Linked DNA regions of Homo sapiens: region 2 is linked to region 1. The links come from fine-mapping of genetic effects on gene expression. A gene starts in region 1. The other region holds a variant in brackets. All regions are shown on one strand. Distances are from middle to middle.

Evidence for each region. PIP is the estimated chance that this variant, and not a neighbour inherited with it, causes the effect.
Region 2: its variant is the best candidate, but not a certain one, in a credible set for the expression of PLEKHJ1 in blood mononuclear cells (TOPMed, PIP 0.70).

What each region holds. Positions count from the first base shown.
Region 1 is chr19:2,233,984-2,238,983 of GRCh38, forward strand. PLEKHJ1 (pleckstrin homology domain containing J1) reads right to left here and starts at 2,346. Exons shown (of 6, transcript NM_018049.3): 1 at 2,172-2,346; 2 at 1,940-2,007; 3 at 1,779-1,845; 4 at 167-257; 5 at 15-78. The coding sequence starts at 2,265. SF3A2 (splicing factor 3a subunit 2) reads left to right here and starts at 2,841. Exons shown (of 9, transcript NM_007165.5): 1 at 2,841-2,918. MIR1227 (microRNA 1227) reads right to left here and starts at 166; the gene lies at 79-166. MIR6789 (microRNA 6789) reads right to left here and starts at 1,943; the gene lies at 1,846-1,943. RefSeq lists enhancers at 571-1,150, 1,153-1,761, 2,370-2,978, 2,557-2,606 and silencers at 1,787-2,416, 3,027-3,126.
Region 2 is chr19:2,205,133-2,210,644 of GRCh38, forward strand. DOT1L (DOT1 like histone lysine methyltransferase) reads left to right here. Exons shown (of 28, transcript NM_032482.3): 10 at 1,597-1,665; 11 at 2,442-2,548; 12 at 3,803-3,844; 13 at 5,268-5,378; 14 at 5,489-5,512. Among named protein-coding and RNA genes, the nearest start is that of DOT1L-AS1, 7.7 kb to the right of the region's middle. The variant C/T (reference allele first, on the strand shown) is at 2,418.

The DNA.
Region 1 (5,000 bases):
AGCCCTGCACACACCTTGCCCGTCACCTTCCGGATTTCGTTCCTGTAGAAGATGAGGCTTCTCCGCATGAACTCGTAGCTGGGGAAAAGGGTGGCACGGGGTCAAATGCCCGCTCTGCATGGCTGCTGTGCCCACCCCAGCAGTGCCCACCACCGCCTGGCCCCACCTGGCCCGACGCAGAGCCTCCATCCACTCCTGACACTGCTCCTCGCTGCTGCACTCAAAGTGATACTTCCTCTCAGGGTCCTCAATGAAGCCTGGGGATGGAACACCTGTGGTCGGTCCTACCCACAGCCACAAGCAGCTTCCTCTTGCCATTGCCCATAAACTGTCCCTTCTCTGGCCCCCACAAAGATGTGTTCATGTCCTGACCCCCCAGAACCCATGAGTATGGCCCTGTATATAAACAGGGTCTTTGCATATAAACTAGTCAAAATGAGGTTGTCGCCAGGTGCGGTGGCTCATGCCTATAATCCCAGCGCTTTGAGAGGCCAAGGTGGGAGGATTGCTTGAGCTCAGGAGTTCGAGACCAGCCTGGGTGACATGGCAAAATCCCCATCTCTACAAAAACAAAAATTAGCCAGGTGTGGTGGTGGGGCCTTGTAGGCCCAGCCACTCCGGAGTCAGAAGTGGGAGGACTGCTTGAGCCAAGGGGGTTGAGGCTGCAGTGAGCTGTGATCACGCCACTGCACTCCAGCCTCGGAAACAAAAGATCCTGTCTCAAAAATAAAGAGGGCCGGGTACGGTGGCTCAAGACCGTAATCCCAGCACTTTGGGAGGCCGAGGTGGGAGGATCACCTGAGGTCAGGAGTTCGAGAGCAGCCTGGCCAATATGGCGAAACCCCGTCTCTACTAAAAATACAAAAATTAGCTGGGCATGGTGGCGCGTGCCTGTAGTACCAGCTACTCGGGAGGCTGAGGCAGGAGAATCACTTGAACCCGAGAGGGGGAAGTTACAGGGAGCCGAGATTGCACCACTGCACTCCAGCCTGGGCGACATACCAAGACCCTGTCTCAAAAAATAAGCAAATAAAATAATAAAGTGAAGTAAAAAGGGGTTGTCAGGGTGGGCCCTAAATTCTGCTTGGCGTCTGTGTAGAAGGGGAAATGTGGGCACAGACGTGATGCAAGGAGGACAAGGTGACGCTTCCACAAGCCAAGGAACCTGGAGGATACTGGCCACCACTAGGAACTGGGAGATTCCCCTCGGCCTCAGAAGGATTCGGCCCCACCCACACCTTCATCTAGGATTTCTGGCCTCCAGAACTGTAGAGAATGTTTCTGATATTTAAGCCACCTGGCCTGTGGAATTTTGACAGCCACTCTGGGCAAACTAGCAGGGACTCCATCTTTCCCCGCAGAAGGGAATCTCTTAAGACCCAGGAGAACACCCCCCTCTCACTCCTCCTACCCCCACCTGGGATTTCCAGCCCGGGGCCATATAACAATGCTAGACCCATGCTACTCTTGGCAGCTGGGGAAACGCTTTGGGTGGGGCTGGCCCACCTGCCCTGTAAGTACAGCCTGGGCCCACAGGGAACAAAGAGCAGAGTCTGGGAGGGACCCAAGCTTAAGTGGACTCGGCAGGTGGGAAGGGTGGTGCCCGCCAGGAGAACTTGACCTTGAGCTGCCCGTGGACAATGCACTCTTGTGTTTGAGGAGGGTGGCGCCAGGCTGGGGACACAGAGGAGACCTTGGGCGCCCGGGGAGGGGAAAGTGCGGCGCTGCGGGTGCCCCGGGCTGCGGGAAGCGCCGCTGGCTTCCCTAGCCCCACTCACTGATGGAGAAGGTGCCGGGCTCTTCCCGGACGACTCTGCAGCGCTCCAGCAGCAGGGCTCCGACGGGCTGGAGGAGACACGGGCGCCGGGACGGGGCAGTGAGCACCCGGCCTCCGAGGGGCCCAGCCTGGGACCCGCCCGCGCGCCCGGGACGCCCCTACCTCGGCCTCGTCTGTCCGAAAGTAGAAGAGGAAATTCACCACCAGCTTCACCAGCCGCCGCTTCAGCACTGCGGGCACAGCGCGCACTCAGGGGCGCAGGCAGCCCCCGCCCGGACCCCGGCCTCCCGTCCCCGGCGCCCCGACCCGGACTCCGGCCTCCGGCACCCCCGCCCAGACCCCGGCCCCGGCCTCCCGCCCCTGGCACTGTCTCGGTCTCCCGGGTCCCGCTCACCGCTGCCCTTCTTGGGGCCCCTCATGCCCAGCTCGGCCGCCATCTCGGCCGGCTGCCGGGACAGAGCCTGCAGCTCCTTCTCGTTGTACCGCATGGCTCCGCGGGGAACGGGAACCCGGGCCGCGCCCTCCCGGCCGCCGTCCCCGCTCAGGCTGGGGCCGGCGCCAAAAATGTCTCAGGGCGCAGACACGGAAGCACCCCCAGGGCTAGTGCGCCTGCGCACCTTGGGCCAGCCATGCCGCCCGCCTCCGCTGCGTGGCGCTGGCGACCCGTGGCTGCTGGCGTGGGCGGGGTACCGGTTGGTAGGAGAGACGGACCGTTGTTACATAACCATTAAACTGAAATAAACCGGACCAAGGTGGAACAGAATCAAGGCACCCCAGCGATGGCTGGCACCCCTTTCTAGAGCGGCCAGGCGCAGGCGGAGGGAGCGATAACGTCGCCCGGAGAGTGTCAGCCGCTCCCTCGCGAAAGTTGGCCCCGTGCGGCCGCAGCGGACCGAGGGTTCGTTGAGAGCGTTGTGCGCACGCGCAGTTTGCCTTCCAGGCCGCGCTTTCAGCCTCTCCCCCTCCAGCCTTTTCCTTCGCGCCTCGGGACCCTCTGACTCACGCCGCTGGGCGGGCCAGGCATGCGCACACCAGAGGGCCCGTCTCATTTGCCCCGGAAGTGCTTTCTTTGCCCGCCGTTCGCCAAACGAAGTCGTGGAGGTGGCGAAACGAGGAGGAGATAACGCGGCCTTGGGCTCTGGTGAGGAGTAGAGGCGGTTGAGGGCGGCGGCCGACGCGGACCGGGGGTTCCCTGGGGGACAGCGGACGTAGGAGAGAGGCGCTTGCGACAGGCCGCGGGCCGAGGGTGGGGCGGCGGCGTCGCTCCCCTCCCTCCTCCCGTGAGCGTCCGGCCTTGTGCATCCTGAGGCCCCGCGCTGGGCGGGCCTGGAGGGTCGGGCCCGCCAGGAACTCTATTTCCAAACTCCTGTTGGGAGGCCGCGCGCGGGGCCTCACGCCTGTAATCTCACTGCTCAGGGAGGCCTTGGCGGGAGGATCGCTTGAGGCCAGGAGTTCGAGACCAGCCTGGACAACACACCGAGACCCCCATCTCTACAAAAAATTTTAAAAAATTAGCCAGGAGTGGTGGTTGTACCTGTAGGCCCAGCTACTCGAGAGGATCGCTTGAGCTCGGAATGTCGAGGCTGCAGTGAGCCATGATCCCACCACTGCACTCCAGCCTGGGCAACATAGCGAGACCCCATCACTGCAAAAAAAAAAAAAAAAAAAATTAGCCGGGCGTGGTTGGTGACGCGCGCCTGTAGTCCCAGCTACTCTGGAGGCTGAAGCGGGAAGATCGCTTGAGTCCAGGAGGTCGAGGCTGCAGTGAGTTGTGATTGTGCCGTTGCACTCCAGCCTGGACAACAGAGCAAGACCCTGTTTGACAAAATAAAAAAGAAACAACCAAGATTCGTTGGGGTCGAATCGGGATCGCGGCTGAAATGGTTTCGGCCGCCTTCCTTGTAGCCGAGAACGCTTCTGTATGCTCATCTATACCTGTTAGTTGACTGGGGCTCTGTGATGTAATTCCTGTGAGCCTCAGTTCCCTTAAAATGGGAGTGACGGCTTCAACATCATGCCAAAGGCGACCAGAACACGTTAGCTGGCCCCATTTTGCAGGTGCACCCCGCTGTGACCGTTGTTCTTGTGTATCCTTGGACGACACCAAACAGCCAGGCGGAGCTCTGGAAAATAGGTTGTTGGCTAGGTTAAGGAGAGAACGGTGTTGCCACGAAAAACTAATTCCTTCTCAATGGTCTAGTCCCAGGTCCCAGAGGCCACTTTTCCTCAATTCTTAAGCTCATTTCCCCTGGTCGTCATCGGTTTTTTGTTTGTTTTGAGACAGGGTCTTGCTCTGTCACCCAGGCTGGAGTGAGTGCAGTGGTGCAATCACAGCTTACTCCAGCCTCAAACTCCCATGCTCAAGCCATCCTCCTGCCTCAACCTCTCGAGTAGCTGGGATCACAGGTGCTCACCACCATGTCCGGCGAATTTTTGTATTTTTTGTAGAGACGAGGTTTCGCCATGTTGCCCAGGCTGGTCTCGAACTCCTGACCAGGTGATCCACCTGCCACGGCCTCCCAAAGTGGTAGGATTACAGGCATGAGCCACTGCACCCGGCTAATTTTTGTATTTTTTGTAGAGATGGGGTTTTACCAGGTTGGCCAGGCTGTCCCCTGATCTTTACCTTAGTAAGTAACAGATTTCTTCATGGATTTATCAATTTGTAGACATCATCTGCTGATTTCTTGTCACGGCTGTTGAGATCTTCTCCCTCCCATCCACCCACTGCACCTTCACCTTCCATATCCTGAATGAGTTTATGTCATGAGCATAGTTGGTCATTGGTTGTGTTTTCTAAATAAGATGCAAAATATTGTTGGCTGCTAAAACAAGTAATATGTTCAGCTAGGCTTTTCTTGTACCATTCTATCTTCCCTTAAAGCTAATTAACTTTGTTTTTACCATGAGCCTGATTTTCTTTTACCTGCTGTTTGTTTTTTCCCCACAAAGCTCCCACCTCTCACACACCTATCAGTTGTATTTTGCATAGGTTTAAATAAATTGATCTCCCCTCACCACTTCCCTCCAAGACCCCCTTATCCTCCTCCTCCAAATGGGACTGGTTGTGCTCTGACCTGGAAGTGGAGCTGTTGTCCCAAACCTTCCTGTCCTTGCTCCCCTGTGCTGACCTCTGTTTCCAGTGTGGTCATCTCTTTCCCTTCATGCTGTCCGAGCAAAACTTCTGGGAGCTTTTGAAGAAACAGATGATTTTTTTCGGGGG
Region 2 (5,512 bases), 29 kb before region 1:
GCTAATTTTTTTGTATTTTTAGTAGAGACAGGGTTTCACTGTGTTAGCCAGGATGGTCTCGATCTCCTGACCTCGTGATCTCCCTGCCTCGGCCTCCCAAAGTGCTGGGTTACAGGCATGAGCCACCGCACCTGGCCCACATTTTGACTTTTATGATTACCTTCTTTATATGTGTAAAAACAGAAGGCTCTGTTTCTCTCGGTCCTGCGAAGTTCGGCTCCTGACACCAAGTTCTTCCTGCAGCACACACAAGATGCCCCATAGTGGCTGGTGATAGTGAGACTGACGCTTAGCAGCAGCCTTGCAGGTGCCTGGCTGACTTTTTTGTATTTTTAGTAGAGACGGGGTTTCACTGTGTTGGTCAGACTGAGGCTGAAGGTGTCCATCCGGTCTGTTTGTCTTTGCATTTATCACTGACAGTCAGTTAGAATCCCAGGGTTCAGAGGTATTTGAAATAATTCTTTTCGCATGACTGTTTCCAGTTTGCATCTACAGTTAGATTTTGTTCCTGCTTGTGTACGGCTTGGGGGTTTGCTCTTCCTGCCTCTCAAACCTTAGTTTTTTGTTTTGTTTTTTTTTGAGACAGGGTCTTCATCCTTGGCCCAGGCTGGAGTGCACTGGTGTGATCATAGCTCCCTGCAGCCTTGACCTCCTGGGCTCAAGTGATCCTCCTGCCCCAGCCTCCCGAGTAGCTGGGATCACAGGCATGCACCATCATGCCCAGCTAATTTTTTATTTTAATTTTTTGTAGAGATGGGGTCTCCCTGTGTCCCAGGCTGGGCTGGAACTTCTGGCAGTCTGCCCGCCTTGGCCTCCCATAATGCTGGGTTTACAGGCGTGAGCCTGTGCGCCTGGCAGCGTAGTGGGTTTTTTTTTTCTTTTGAGGCAGAGTCTCTCTCTATCGCCCAGGCTGGAGTGCAGTGGCGCGATCTCGACTCACTTGCAGCTTCCACCTCCCAGGTTCAAGTGATTCTCCTGCCTCAGCCTCCCGAGTAGCTGGGATTACAGATGTGCGCCACCACACCTGGCTAGTTTTTGTATTTTTTTAGTAGAGACACGGTTTTACCCTGTTAGCCAGGCTGGCCTCGGGTGATCCACCTGCCTCAGCCTCCCAAAGTGCTGGGATTACAGGCATGAGCCACTGCACCGCGCCGAGAATGTTTTTTAAAGAAGCATTATTTGTAGGAGGTTGGGCGTGGTGGCTCACTTGAGGCCAGGAGTTCCAGACAAGCCTGGCCAGCAGGGTGAAACCCGCTCTCTACTAAAAATCCAAAAATTAGCCAGGTGTGGTGGTGTGCGCCTGTAATCACAGCTACTCGCAAGGCTGAGGCAGGAGAACCGCTTGAACCAGGGAGGTGGAGGTTGCAGTGAGCCGGGAGACTCTGTCTCAAAAAAAAAAAAAAAAAAAAAAAGTTATTTGTAGAATAGGCTTCAACTTGGAAGGTGTTTCCTAGTGTTGCTTGTAGGCAGGTGGACAGGACCCGGAGCCCAGTGTGTGTGTGTTCCGTGTCATTGTTCCTTCTCTGTCACCTTGAGTGGTGTCTGCTCTTCTGTTTCCTCTCTCCTGTGTGGCAGTAAGCAGTGTCTGTGTTTCAGGTGGCAGAATCGTGTCCTCGAAACCCTTTGCACCTCTGAACTTCAGAATAAACAGTAGAAACTTGAGTGGTAAGAAACTCTCATGTTGTTAATGATGAACACGGGTAATTTTAACCATCTGACACGCAGTATTCCTAGGTCCCTCTTCCTTGACCCTGTGGACACTGGGGCTGGATCCTTCTGTGGGGTGGGGCTGTCCTGGGCAGTGCAGGGTGCTGAGCAGCGTCCCTGGTGTCCACCCACTCCATGCCAGGAGCACCCCTGGTCGCGACAACCACACACGTCCCCATAGAGCACTGTGTGCCATGGGGGTAGAATCACTCCTCGGGGAGACCCCGGCTTCGAGGGGAGGCGTGAAGGATTTACAGGACTTTTGTGGACAGAGACAGGCCCACGGTGGGAAGGAGCCGGCCCCTCCCATGCCCCCTGCCTGCCTTACTGTGCTGCGTGCTCTGTCAGCTCCCAGCCTTGCGGGGCAGCACGGCCTCCTCTGAGGGGCTTCCCTGAGGAGCGCCCACCCGGGAGGTGCCTGTGTTGCTGGATGCTGGCCGTTCTTGCAGCCGTGATCTAAGTCGCTTCCAGATCTTCTCCCCCTCCTTTTCCATTCCACTCAGCTGGGTTTGTGGCTGTTTTTCTGAGGTTGGAGGGGCCCAGGCCAGGTGGTGTTGAATGGTGCACCTCCCTGGGCCGGCCTCTGTGGGCCACTGTGGCCTGACGCAGTGTGGGAGAAGAGGGAAGACGCGCAGCTCAGGCTTCTGTCCCCACGCCTGCCCTGGGGTGGGTGAGGTCTGCATGGAGGGGCTGTGGGCAGGCGCAGGCCC[C/T]GGCCTCACCTGTGGCTCCTGCAGACATCGGCACCATCATGCGCGTGGTGGAGCTCTCGCCCCTGAAGGGCTCGGTGTCGTGGACGGGGAAGCCAGTCTCCTACTACCTGCACACTATCGACCGCACCATAGTGAGTATCTCGCTGCGCCTCAGCCGCAGGGCCGTCCTGGTCTTCCACCCCGCCCACGTCACACTGCTCTCTCCTTTCTCATGTGGCCTCTGAGACCCTCCCCTCAGAGCCCTCAACGCCCCCCGGCCCCTGAGCTCAGGCCCAGCTCCTCAAGGCCCCTCAGTACTGCTTGCACCGCAGGACCCACCAGGGTCCTCCCAGGCACTGGGCGTGTCCTGGGTGAGGGCTGAGTGCTGTCTCCCCTAGTCTACGCTCAGCTCCTGGGGTGGGGCGGGGCCATCAGAGTGATGTGTGACCATAAGGGTCCCGGCCGCCATATCCAGAGGCCCCTGTGGATAGGAGTCCCACGTCCCTGTTCCCAGCTTCCTCCATGTGAGAGGGTCCTGAGCGGGGAGACACCAGGGTCCATGGGTGGGGTCTGGGATGCTTCTTCCCTCCCTGTGTTCCCCAGGGTCCTCTGACACAGCCCTGGGCCAGTGTGCGGCCTGCCTGCCTCCCACGGTGCTTCCCCCCCGGGCACGAGTATCCCGAGCCTCCTGGCATGTGGGCAGCGCCAGCCCTCCAGGGCTGGGAGGCTTCCCCTGGTCTCTTTCCCGTCCTTTGGTTGGGCACTCTGTTCCTGTTGTTGGGGTAGCGGTGGTTTTCCTTACGGTGGTGCTGGTGTGTCTGCACCCTCACTGTCCAGTGCTCGGAGCCTCCACTAGAGCCTGCCTGGGGAGCGCTGGTGCCGTCTGGGGACCGACAGCCCCAGGCAGATGCACCCCGCCCTCCCACTGCTCCCCCGAGGGCCCTGGGACGAGAGGCATGGTGAGCTGAGGCTGAGGCTCTGGGGGCTTGGCCTACCGTGCGGCCCCCACCTCCACGCAGTGCTGCTGCTTCAGCTGCCCTGGCACTGACGCCCTCGGCGCAGCCTCTCGCCTTCTCCTCTGAGGCGGGCGCGGTTCTTCTGTGCAGAAAGCCCTCCCTCTTCCAGAAGCAGAGACACATCCCAGGGCCCTGTGTCTGTTCTGAAGGCTTAAACCAGCCCCGCCCACCCGTCGCGTGCTGGTGAATTGAGGGTGACGCCTGGCCACAGCTGGGTTAGTCACATCCGCGTTTGCCACTGGGGGGCTCTAGCTGCATGCCTGCTGTCCCCAGATACCAGAACAGCCTCCCCAGCCACTGTCCAGGTTGCTGTTGTTACCTGGGTGTCCAGACAAATCCGAACAGAGATTGGGACTCCCTTCTAATCAGGGTTCTCTTTCTTCTTTTTAGCTTGAAAACTATTTTTCTAGTCTGAAAAACCCAAAACTCAGGGTAAGTTTGTGTGTTTTTTCTCTTGGGTTAATAACACGCATGCACTGATGTGGGGAAATGCAAAGCCGTGCGCAGCCGGGTTCAGGAGCCACGACTGGAGCACAGCCCTGCCGCCCCTCGGGGCCCGGCCCTGTGCCCTTTCCCGCCTCCTTCCTGCTCCTCCCCACTGTCACTCCTGGTCCTCTCCCTACCCTTTCCTCCCTGTCCTCCCCCTCTTCCTCTCCTCTCCCAGCCCTTTTCTCTCACCATTCAATCTCTCTCTCTCTCCCCCACCCTCCCTCTCCGTTTCTCTCTCTCTCCCACCCTCTCTCTGTCTCTTTGCCTGTCTTCATGCTTTGCCTTGTCTTTGATGGTTTGGCCTGGGACATCCTTCCCCTTGTTAATACTTATTTTTGGGGAGGTGGCTTGGCTTAGTTTTGGTGGTGGGGTGAGTTGCACTGAAGGGCTGGGTGGGTGAAAAGCTTGTGCGTCACTGCTGGCTGCCCCCTCTTGAGGCCTGGGGGGCCACACATGTGCGCTTGTCCCACCCTCGGTGCAGAGTGCAGCTCCTGGGCCCCCGCGCCCTGCACGCGCTGCACCGTCGGAGGCAGGGCTGTCCCCTCCTCTCCCACCTTAAAGCAGCGGTGGGAAAGCCTGGCTTGGGGAGCCACAGTGGCCGCCCTGCCCGCTGGCGCTTCTGCAGCCTCAGACCTGCCTGCTTATTTGCCACCAAAGCTGAGAGGATGTTTGTCCGGGCGTCCTTTCCTTTTGGAGGGGGTCAGACAAGACCAGCATGCGGAGAACCCCGTACAGGAAGGGCTCTGTCACTGCCTGGATTTGTAGCCAGGGCTGGGCTCCAACCCGGCCTCAGAGCCTGGTACCCCTCGGGGGCCCTCTGTCCTTCCCACCATGCTTAGGGGGATGTGGGTCTTCCCTGGAGAGCAGGGAACGGCCCGAGGTGGCCGGCGCACCCTGTGTTCCCCTTCCCGTGGGTCGCGCCCTCCACTAACTCACATCAGAGAACTTGTGCATGGCGTCCCATGTGTGGGCCTCGGTGCCTTTCGAAGAGAGGAGAGAGGGCAGGGGAGGCTGTGGGCTGTGGCTTCTAGGTCCTGCTGCCTGAGGGGCTTCTCGTCTCCTGTCTTGGATGTGGTTCTTTTTCTCTGTGGCTCACAGTCTGGCTTCTTACTGACAGGCATCTGTGATTGTGGGAGTGGCTGTGAATGCCGTTATCCGTGCCCACGGGTCACGTCCTGGCCTGCGGGGCCCCAAGCAGCCCACTGCTGTCTCTGGGCCTCAGTTTCCTGATTTGTGCCACAGAGGACTTGCAGTGGACAGAGTTGGGCCCGTGGCCCCCTTGAGTCTGAGCTCCGCGTGCCTCTCGGTGCAGGAGGGCCGTGGGCAGCGCTGGGGCTTCCTGTGGCTCAACCTGCTCTCCTTCCAGGAGGAACAGGAGGCAGCCCGGCGCCGCCAGCAGCGCGAGAGCAAGAGCAACGCGGCCACGCCCACTAAGGGCCCAGAGGGCAAGGTGGCCGGCCCCGCCGACGCCCCCATGGTAAGGCCCCAGCCTGGCTCCTGCTGCTGGAGGGCACCCGCCCCCTGCCCGGGAGACCCCATGGGTGGGAGGCTCTGTGCCCATCCCTGTTCTTCCCTTGTGTCCTCCAGGACTCTGGTGCTGAGGAAGAGAAG